Regions from separate parts of the Homo sapiens genome. Here regions 2 and 3 are each linked to region 1. The links come from fine-mapping of genetic effects on gene expression. A gene starts in region 1. Each other region holds a variant in brackets. All regions are shown on one strand. Distances are from middle to middle.

The links. PIP is the estimated chance that this variant, and not a neighbour inherited with it, causes the effect.
Region 2: its variant is fine-mapped to the expression of FUOM in whole blood (TOPMed, PIP 0.99).
Region 3: its variant is fine-mapped to the expression of FUOM in whole blood (TOPMed, PIP 0.91).

What each region holds. Positions count from the first base shown.
Region 1 is chr10:133,356,759-133,359,553 of GRCh38, forward strand. FUOM (fucose mutarotase) reads right to left here and starts at 1,261. Exons shown (of 6, transcript NM_001098483.3): 1 at 1,165-1,261; 2 at 429-497; 3 at 185-255. The coding sequence starts at 1,249. RefSeq lists enhancers at 1-12, 490-589 and silencers at 740-1,359, 1,410-1,489, 2,522-2,684.
Region 2 is chr10:133,394,871-133,397,540 of GRCh38, forward strand. It overlaps MTG1 (mitochondrial ribosome associated GTPase 1), which reads left to right. Exons shown (of 11, transcript NM_138384.4): 2 at 843-907; 3 at 1,293-1,397. Among named protein-coding and RNA genes, the nearest start is that of MTG1, 2.0 kb to the left of the region's middle. RefSeq lists an enhancer at 13-967. The variant C/T (reference allele first, on the strand shown) is at 1,476.
Region 3 is chr10:133,387,679-133,390,473 of GRCh38, forward strand. PAOX (polyamine oxidase) reads left to right here. Exons shown (of 7, transcript NM_152911.4): 5 at 1,278-1,390; 6 at 1,912-2,069. Among named protein-coding and RNA genes, the nearest start is that of MTG1, 5.1 kb to the right of the region's middle. RefSeq lists silencers at 833-990, 1,247-1,541, 2,131-2,210 and an enhancer at 951-1,080. The variant T/C (reference allele first, on the strand shown) is at 1,412.

The sequences.
Region 1 (2,795 bases):
TGGGGCCCTGGGCACTGCCAGCCTTCCTGGTCAGGTGACCATTCGGGACTCCCCTGGTGAGGGTCAGGGCCCCTTTGGGGACACATGGCTTCCCCCCACTCCAAGGCAGGTGGGCCCTATGAAGCCCGCAAAAGGGGAAACTGAGGCACGGAGCAGCAGGGTGCAGGGGCGACTCAGCCCTCACCGGACTCTCCACATAGGTGTCCAGGGGCAGCAGCTTCAGCACGGCCTCCAGGAGCTGCGGGATGCCCAGGCCTGGAGGGCAGAGGAGGCAGCACTCAGTCTCCAGCCCGCCCGCCCGCCTGCCTGTCTGCACCCTTCACACTGCAAGCATGGACTTGGGGCCACGGCAGGCCACAGAGGAGCCTCAGAGCCAGGAGCACCGCTCACCCGCCCGCCCTGCCCTGGGGGACCTGGGGCTCGCTCACCGTCTGCACGGATCTCCATGGGCCCACACTGGCAGATGGAGGAGGCCGGGAAGTTCAAGTCCGCAAGAACTAAACAGCCGGGAGGACAGCCCGTGTCGGCACCTATCCCTGCCCTCGGGGTCGGCGCCGCCCGTCCTCCCACCCAGTCATGGCGGCAGATCGTGGGTCACAAGAGGTCTCAGGTCAGCCAGTTGGGCGCCCCCACCGCCGACCGGCCGCAGTCAGATCCGCAGGGCTGGAAGCCACGCGGGGAGGTGGGGAGGGCAAGGTCCCTGCCTGGGAGGCAGAGAGGCGTCAACAGCTGCCCGCGAGGCTGTCGGGTGCTGACCAGGCCAGGGGGCCGACCCGGACCCGGCCGCCTCCCCAGGGGCCAGAGGACGCGCGGCTGCCCGCGATGCCCGGACCAGGCCCCCGGCCACCCAACCCCTGCCCCGGGACCCCAGGCCCCAGGAGAAGAAAAAGCGCCGAACCCTCGGGGGCAGCCCAGACGCGAGGGCTCTCGGGCCGTCTGGGGAGGGACTCCGGGAGAAGCTCGGGCCGGCTCCGCCCAGAGCCCCACGAGGTCTCAGTTCCCTAAAGAATGCGGGGGAGGGGGCTTCCTGCCCGGAAGCCAGGGAGGCCCGAGCAACGCCCACACCCCAGGACGCGGCCCTTCCCGGCCCGGGGGTCCCCGTGCAAGCCTCGCCCTCCTGCCTGTCCCGGGGTGCTCCCCGAGGCCCCGGCCCGCTGCGCTCACCGATCTCGTCCCCGTGCCCCATCCGCGCCAGCGCGTAGAGCAGCTCGGGGGACAGCAGTGCGGGGACACCCTTCAGCGCCACCATGGCCCGGCAGACGGGGCGGGCGGGGCCTAGGGGCGGGGCTTGGGGGCCGGGGCGGGGCCTTACGGGGAGGGCGGGGCTTGGGGGCAGAGGCGGGGGCCTTACGGGGAGGGCGGGGCTTAGGGGCAGAGGCGGGGCTTTACGGGGAGGGCGGGGCTTTATTGGAGGGCGGGGCTTTAGGGTCCCGGGCTTGGGGCTTGGGGACGGGCCGGGCCTAGGGTTCGGCGGGCTGGGGTCCGCTTGCGGCTCAAGGAAGGGCGGGGAGCCCCAGGAACTGGGGACGTGCGGGCTGAGTCGTGGCGTGGGGGCAACACCCAGCCAGCCCACGGGCTCCTCGCCAGGTCCGAGACTCGGGTGCCCTTGCGCTGTGGCCGGGGGCTCCCCAGTGTCCCTACCCGAGCCTCCCACCCCGAGCTCCCTCAGGCCGAAGGGGTTCAACCGCCGCGGCCTCCCCTCATGAGGGTCTCTGCCCTCTGACCACTTCGTGCTGCCCTTAGGCCTGGCAGAATGCCCGGAGCGCACCGGGTCCCTGGGGTCACCATGGTGGGTAGCTGGACCCAGGCCTTCAGCCCACGCTCCTGAGGGACCGGGAGCAAGGGACACGGGAGCCAGGACTTCGGACCCCCTTGGGGGGAGTCCAGGAGGGCAGCCAGGCCCAGCTTCCAGGCTCAGCTGCGAAGTGCCAGGACACCTAAGGGTCCTCCATCATCCCCCGGTGTCAGCGGCCTGCAACCCCCTGCCCAGGATGGCGGCATCCTGACCTTTGGCTGAGCTCAGGCTGGCCAGGCCCTCCCTCCGCGGAACCACCTTCTTCCACATGATTCCCAGCTGGACACCAGCTGTGGGGCTAGCACTGCGGCCCTGGCCCTCAGCCCTGAGGTGACACAAATGCTCTGAGGCCTGGCGGCTCCTAAAAAGTTCTGAAAATCAATCTGTATGTGAAAAATGACAAAGCCGCGTCAGAAAACCAGGAGGAAACAGACGTCTCCATGTTGAACTGCTTGGCCCTAGGAGCCTGTCCCCATGGGAAGTGGCCTGGGCTGCGTCGGAAAAGCCTGGTGGGGCCACCCAGGCTGGCACCCAGCAGCACCTGAACAGCTGGCCCTGGGCCGGCCACTCGGGCAGAGAGAAGACCGGGGCTGCCCAGGGCCTGCCAATGAGGGGTGGCTTTGCACCGAGGCCACCGGGTTTCAGAGCTGTACCTGGGCAGTTTCTACTCCAACTTGTAAGTGGAGAGTCACCGTTTACCCAAATATACAAGGGCAAGAGGATTTTATAGAGATGGGCAAGAAAGTTTTCAGCTTCAAAACCAAATCAGGCCGGGCGCGGTGGCTCACACCTGTGATCCCAGCACTTTGGGAGGCCGAGGCGGGCGGATCACTTGAGGTCAGGGGTTGGAGACCAGCCTGGCCAACATGGTGAAACCCCGTCTCTTCAAAATATACAAAAATTAGCCAGGCATGGTGACTGGTGCCTGTAATCCCAGCTACTTGGGAGGCTGAGGCACGAGAATTGCTTGAACCCGGGAAGCGGAGGGTGCAGTGAGCCG
Region 2 (2,670 bases), 38 kb after region 1:
CCACTCCTGCGTCGGCTCCGCGTGTACTGGGGGCCGAGGGGGAAGAAGGGCCCGTGTGGGTGACTGAGGCTGTGTCCTCGGTCTTCGGATAACACTGGAGGGGAAGAAAGCTGGAAGCTTTGTTATCTTGGTTGTGTGTGGTATTCCTGGTTAGGGGACTATCGTCATCATCCCCGCGAGGTAGCAGGGGCCTAATGAGCCAGTGTTACTCTGTGTTATAGCCCAGATTAAGACCCGTGGAAGGGCCCGGCCCGGTGGCTCACGCTTGTAATCCCAGTACTTTGGGAGGCCGAGGTGGGCAGATCACGAGGTCAGGACATCGAGACTATCCTGGCCAGCATGGTGAAACCGTGTCTCTACTAAAAATACAAAAAATTAGCCCGGCATGGTGGCGCGTCCCTGTAGTCCCAGCTACTCGGGAGGCTGAGGCAGGAGAATTGCTTGAACCTGGCAGGCGGAGGTTGCAGTGAGCCGAGATCGTGCCACTGCACTCCAGCCTGGGTGACAGAGCAAGACTCCGTCTCAGAAAACAAAAAAGCGACCCATGCACGTTAAATATTCCACCCAGAGTCAGCCATGAGTCAGGTGGTGAAGACCGCATCTGGCTTTTGACACATGGCCCACCCTGTGGCAGGGTGCCTCCCAGTCTCCCACTCCGAGGGTGCGGACCTTGGAGGAGGCGCTCAGCGGATGTTATCTGTTACCATTACTTAGTACGCTTCCCTCAGATATAGTCTTTTTAGGTTATTTATGGTGGCGTGTCATTCTGGACGGTTCAGCTTGAATCGATCACTCTAGAAAGGTTGTGAGCCCCTTCGCTGAGGCGTCCTTCTGTTTTCCAGGGCTGAAGAAGATGCAGAGCAGCCTGAAGCTGGTGGACTGTATCATCGAGGTCCACGATGCCCGGATATCCTTTCACAGAGCAGGGGAGGCCCCTCTGCCTGAAGTCATATTACACATTAGAATTACCTGGGGAGGCTTTTAAAAATATGAATTGCGAGGCCCCTTTCTAGACCAGTTAATCAGAATCTGTGATGTGGGGTCCAGACTGCGTGTCTTTGAAACTTCATTGTTAATACATATATCTGCGTCACTCAAGCCTGACGGTACGGTGCAGCAGTGGAATCCTCTAGATGGGCTATGAAACTGTTTAAATGTTCCTGCCAACTGGGGCTTTTCTCCTGTACTTGAGGAATGAATTGGCAGGATGTGATGATTCGTTCACTGATGGCAAGAAAAAAAGTTGGTTGGCTGGTAAAGCTTTGGAGGAATTTTTACCTTAATTTTGCCACATCCCACTTTCAGGCCGCAACCCTCTGTTTCAGGAAACCCTTGGGCTTAAGCCTCACTTGCTGGTCCTCAACAAGATGGACTTGGCGGATCTTACAGAGCAGCAGGTAAAGGCCTTTCTCTCAGACGCCTTCAGCAGTGTGGCTGTGTTTTCCCGAGGTCGCTTGTTCTAACGGAAGAGTTGC[C/T]GGACGCACACTTGTCAGTTTGCCCAGGCAGGCTCTGCTTTAGAAACAGCCCTTTGCTTTGCAGAAGCGTGCCAGCATCGTTTCTCATATGGCGTGCCCCCATCTAATGTGTGGTTCGTGACCTGGACACCCAGGGAGTGCACGTCTCCTGTGGGAAGTGGCCAGGTTGTGCTGCCAGAGCCCGAGTGGTCAGTGAGTGCGCATTGTGGGCAGCAAGCCACCCAGGTGCCGAGGCAAGAGACCGAGGACACGAGCTTTTCCAGTGTAATAAAACATATGAAATAAGAATAGTTATACTAGATATAGGTCATAGATATGATTGTATATGAATATTACTAATCATTAGTTTGTAGCAATTACTCTTCATTCCAATATTATTATAATTCTTGCTCTATAATCATAACCTAGGAAAAACCAGGCCATACAGAGATAGGAGCTGAGGGGACATAGTGAGACGTGACAAGTGTGTGAGCCTTCTGTTATGCCCAGACAGGGCCACCAGAGGACTCCTTGGTCTAGCGGTAACGCCAGTGTCTGGGAAGACGCCCGTTGCCAAGCCGACTGTGGTCTAGCGGTAGCGTCAGTGTCAAGGAAAAGCACCCGCTACTTAGCAGACCGGGAAAGGGAGTCTCCCTTTCCCCAGGGGAGTTTAGAGAAGACTCTACTCCTCCACCTCTTGTGGAGGACCTGACATCAGTCAGGCCTGCCCGCAGTTATCCGGAGGCTTAACTGTCTCCCTGTGATGCTGTGCTTCAGTGGTCACGCTCCTAGTCCGCCTTGATGTTCCATCTTGTACACCTGGCTCTGTCTTTTAGATAGCAGTAGCAAAATTAGTGAAAGTACCGAAAGTCTCTGATAAGCAGAAATAATGGCGTAAGCTGTCTCTCTTTCTCCCTCTCTCTCTGCCTTGGCTGCCAGGCAGGGAAGGGCCCCTTGTCCAGTGGACACATGACCCACGTGACCTTACCTGTCATTGGAGATGGCTCACACTCCTTACCCTGCCCCTTTTGCTTTGTATCCAATAAATATTAGTGCAGCCAGACATTTGGGGCCACTACCGGTCTCTGCATCTTGGTGGTAGTGGTCCCCCAGGCACAGCTGTCTTTTCTTTTATCTCTTTGTCTTGTGTCTTATTTTCTTTTTTTTTTTTTGAGGCAGAGTCTTGCTCTGTCGCCCAGGCTGGAGTGCAGTGGCG
Region 3 (2,795 bases), 31 kb after region 1:
CGCGCAGCAGGAGTGTTCTATGCGGATCCCGCTTCTCCACGCAGATTATTATTATTTTTTGAGATGGAGTCTTACTCTGTCGCCCAGGCTGGAGAGCAGTGGCGCGATCTTGGCTCACCGCAACCTCCACCTCCCGGGTTCATGCCATTCTCCTGCCTCAACCTGCCGAGTAGCTGGGACTACAGGTGCCCGCCACCACGCCTGGCTAATTTTTGTATTTTTATTAGACAGGGCTTTACCATATTGACCAGGCTGGTCTCGAACTCCTGACCTCGTGATCCGCCCGCCTTGGCCTCCCAAAGTGCTGGGATTACAGGCCTGAGCCACTGTGCCTGGCCCTCCACGCAGATTATTAAAAAGACATGAACTCGAGGATCAAGATTTAATAAAATTAGTAACTTTTACTGCCTTTGATCAAGGACATTCTCAAGTGAAAGCAGCATTTTTATTTATTTTTTAATATATATATTTTAATTTTTATATTCAGAGGCAGGGATATACGTGCAGGTTTGTTATGTAGCTAACCGTGTATCATGGGGGCTTGTTGTACAGATTAGTTCTATCACCCAGGAATTAAACCTAGTACCCATTAGTTATTTTTCCTGCTCCTCTCCCTCCTCCCATCCTCCACTCTCCCATAGGCCCCAGTGTGTGTTCTCATCATTTAGCTCCCACTTGAAAGGGAAAACATGTGCTGTCTGCTTTTCTGTTCCTGTGTTAGTTTGCTAAGGATAATGGCCTCCAGCTCCATCCATGTCCCTGCAAAGGACATGATCTCGTTCTTTGACGGCTGCAAAAAGCAGCATTTTGTAACCCTCATGTGCAGTGGTGGGAACGCCTGTAGGCGCATGTGGATCCTGTTGCTGCCTGATTCTGCTAAGGGACGGTTTACCTGCCCTGGCTCTTGCTCAGGTGCAAATGTCGGCGTGGTGGAAACAGCAAATGCTGTCTTAGCGTCTGAAGATGGCTGTGACCTTGAGGGTCCCTGGCAGGGCCTTCGGACCCCCAGGACTTTGCCGCCCACACTCTGCGAACTGCTGCCTGAGGGACGCTCTGTGGGGTGGCTCTTTGTGCCTCTGGGGCCCCTGCTCCATCAGTGGTTCCTTGCTGAGAAACGCGGGCGGAGAGCTGGGCTGGACACTGTCATCCCGGGGCTCTCTTTCTCCATGCAGGTCTGGTCATCCCAGGGCTCTCTTTCTCCATGCAGGTCTGGTCATCCCAGGGCTCTCTTTCTCCATGCAGGTCTGGTCATCCCAGGGCTCTCTTTCTCCATGCAGGTCTGTCCACGTTCTCTGTGGGTTCATTGCCGGACTTGAGTCTGAGTTCATGGAGACTCTGTCGGATGAAGAAGTACTTCTGTGTCTCACCCAAGTGCTCCGGAGAGTGACAGGTAGGTACTCACCACACACGC[T/C]GGTTCCTGCCTCTGCTCGTTACTGGTTGATCTCTAAACAGAAACTAGACTTTGCAGAACAGAGAAAAACTAAATTTGGCTGACTCTGTACATCTCCAGGGACCATCCTTCCTCATGTTAGTGGGGTCAGTAACAGTTCTTACCTCCGAGGAACTGAAATGACTTTGCAAACACTTCCTACTTCTGCCACCAAAATAAATGCCGTTGTCCTTGATCAGATTTTTACAGAGGAGGAACCCAAGGCTCGGAAACAGTAGCTGCTGCTGTCACAGCTCCCGGGTCCCGGCCCGCTGCTGTCGGGTCAGAGGCCCCCGGGTCCCAGCCCACTGCTCTCGGGTCAGAGGCGGCAGGAAGAGCCTCTCCTGACACACTCTGCTGCTCACTTTTCTTCCTGCATAGCATCTTTCACGTTAAACTGCTCAATCTTTAAAAATGACAAAAACAGTTGCAGACCTGTGGGTGAGAGTTCTCGGTTAACATGCAGTGTCTCTGTGGCTCAGGAAACCCACGGCTCCCCGCGCCCAAGAGCGTCCTGCGGTCTCGCTGGCACAGCGCCCCGTACACTAGGGGGTCCTACAGCTACGTGGCCGTGGGCAGTACTGGGGGCGACCTGGACCTGCTGGCTCAGCCCCTCCCTGCAGACGGCGCCGGCGCCCAGGTATGTGGCGTGCCCCAGTCGGGGGGCGTGGGTCCCGCTGCAGAGGCCCCCGCCGAGTCTGGGCGCTGCAGGAGCACCAGCCAGTGGCGGGTGGGCTGGGATCCCAGACTCGGAAGCCATTTTCTTTTTGAAACTAAGAATAATTTTTAAATGTACTGTTTTTGTGAGAATTATACACACACAGCTTAAAAAGTCAGAGAATTCTGCAGTGCTAACAAAAGAAAATAAAACCAAAATGGCAGGTGGAGCCCCTTTTGCCCTTCTCAGACGGTGCTCCCAGCTGATTCTCATCGCTAAGTTTACTGCATCTCTAAAAACATGTTTCTGCTACCACGTTTTGAGATACATTTCCTGTGCAAAATGTCAAACATACTAAAGTAGGGAGAACCTTTCAGTGCCCACCAGGCTTCCCCTAAGCCAAGCTTCTCCCCGCCCACCCCCGCCCTTTTTTATTAAGCATGACTCACACAGGACATTGTCTCACCTCAGGATATTTTGGTGCCTGTTTCTAAAAGATAAAGACATCCTTGTAAAATACTTAACTATGATGCTGAGGGCAGTGGCTCACACCTGTAATCCTAGTGCTTTGGGAGGCCTAGGCAGGAGGTTTGCTGAGGCCAAGAGTTCGAGACCAGCCTGGGCAACATAGTGAGAGTCGGTCTCCACACACACACACACACACACACACACACACACACAAGTAGCCAGGCATGGTAGCATGCACCT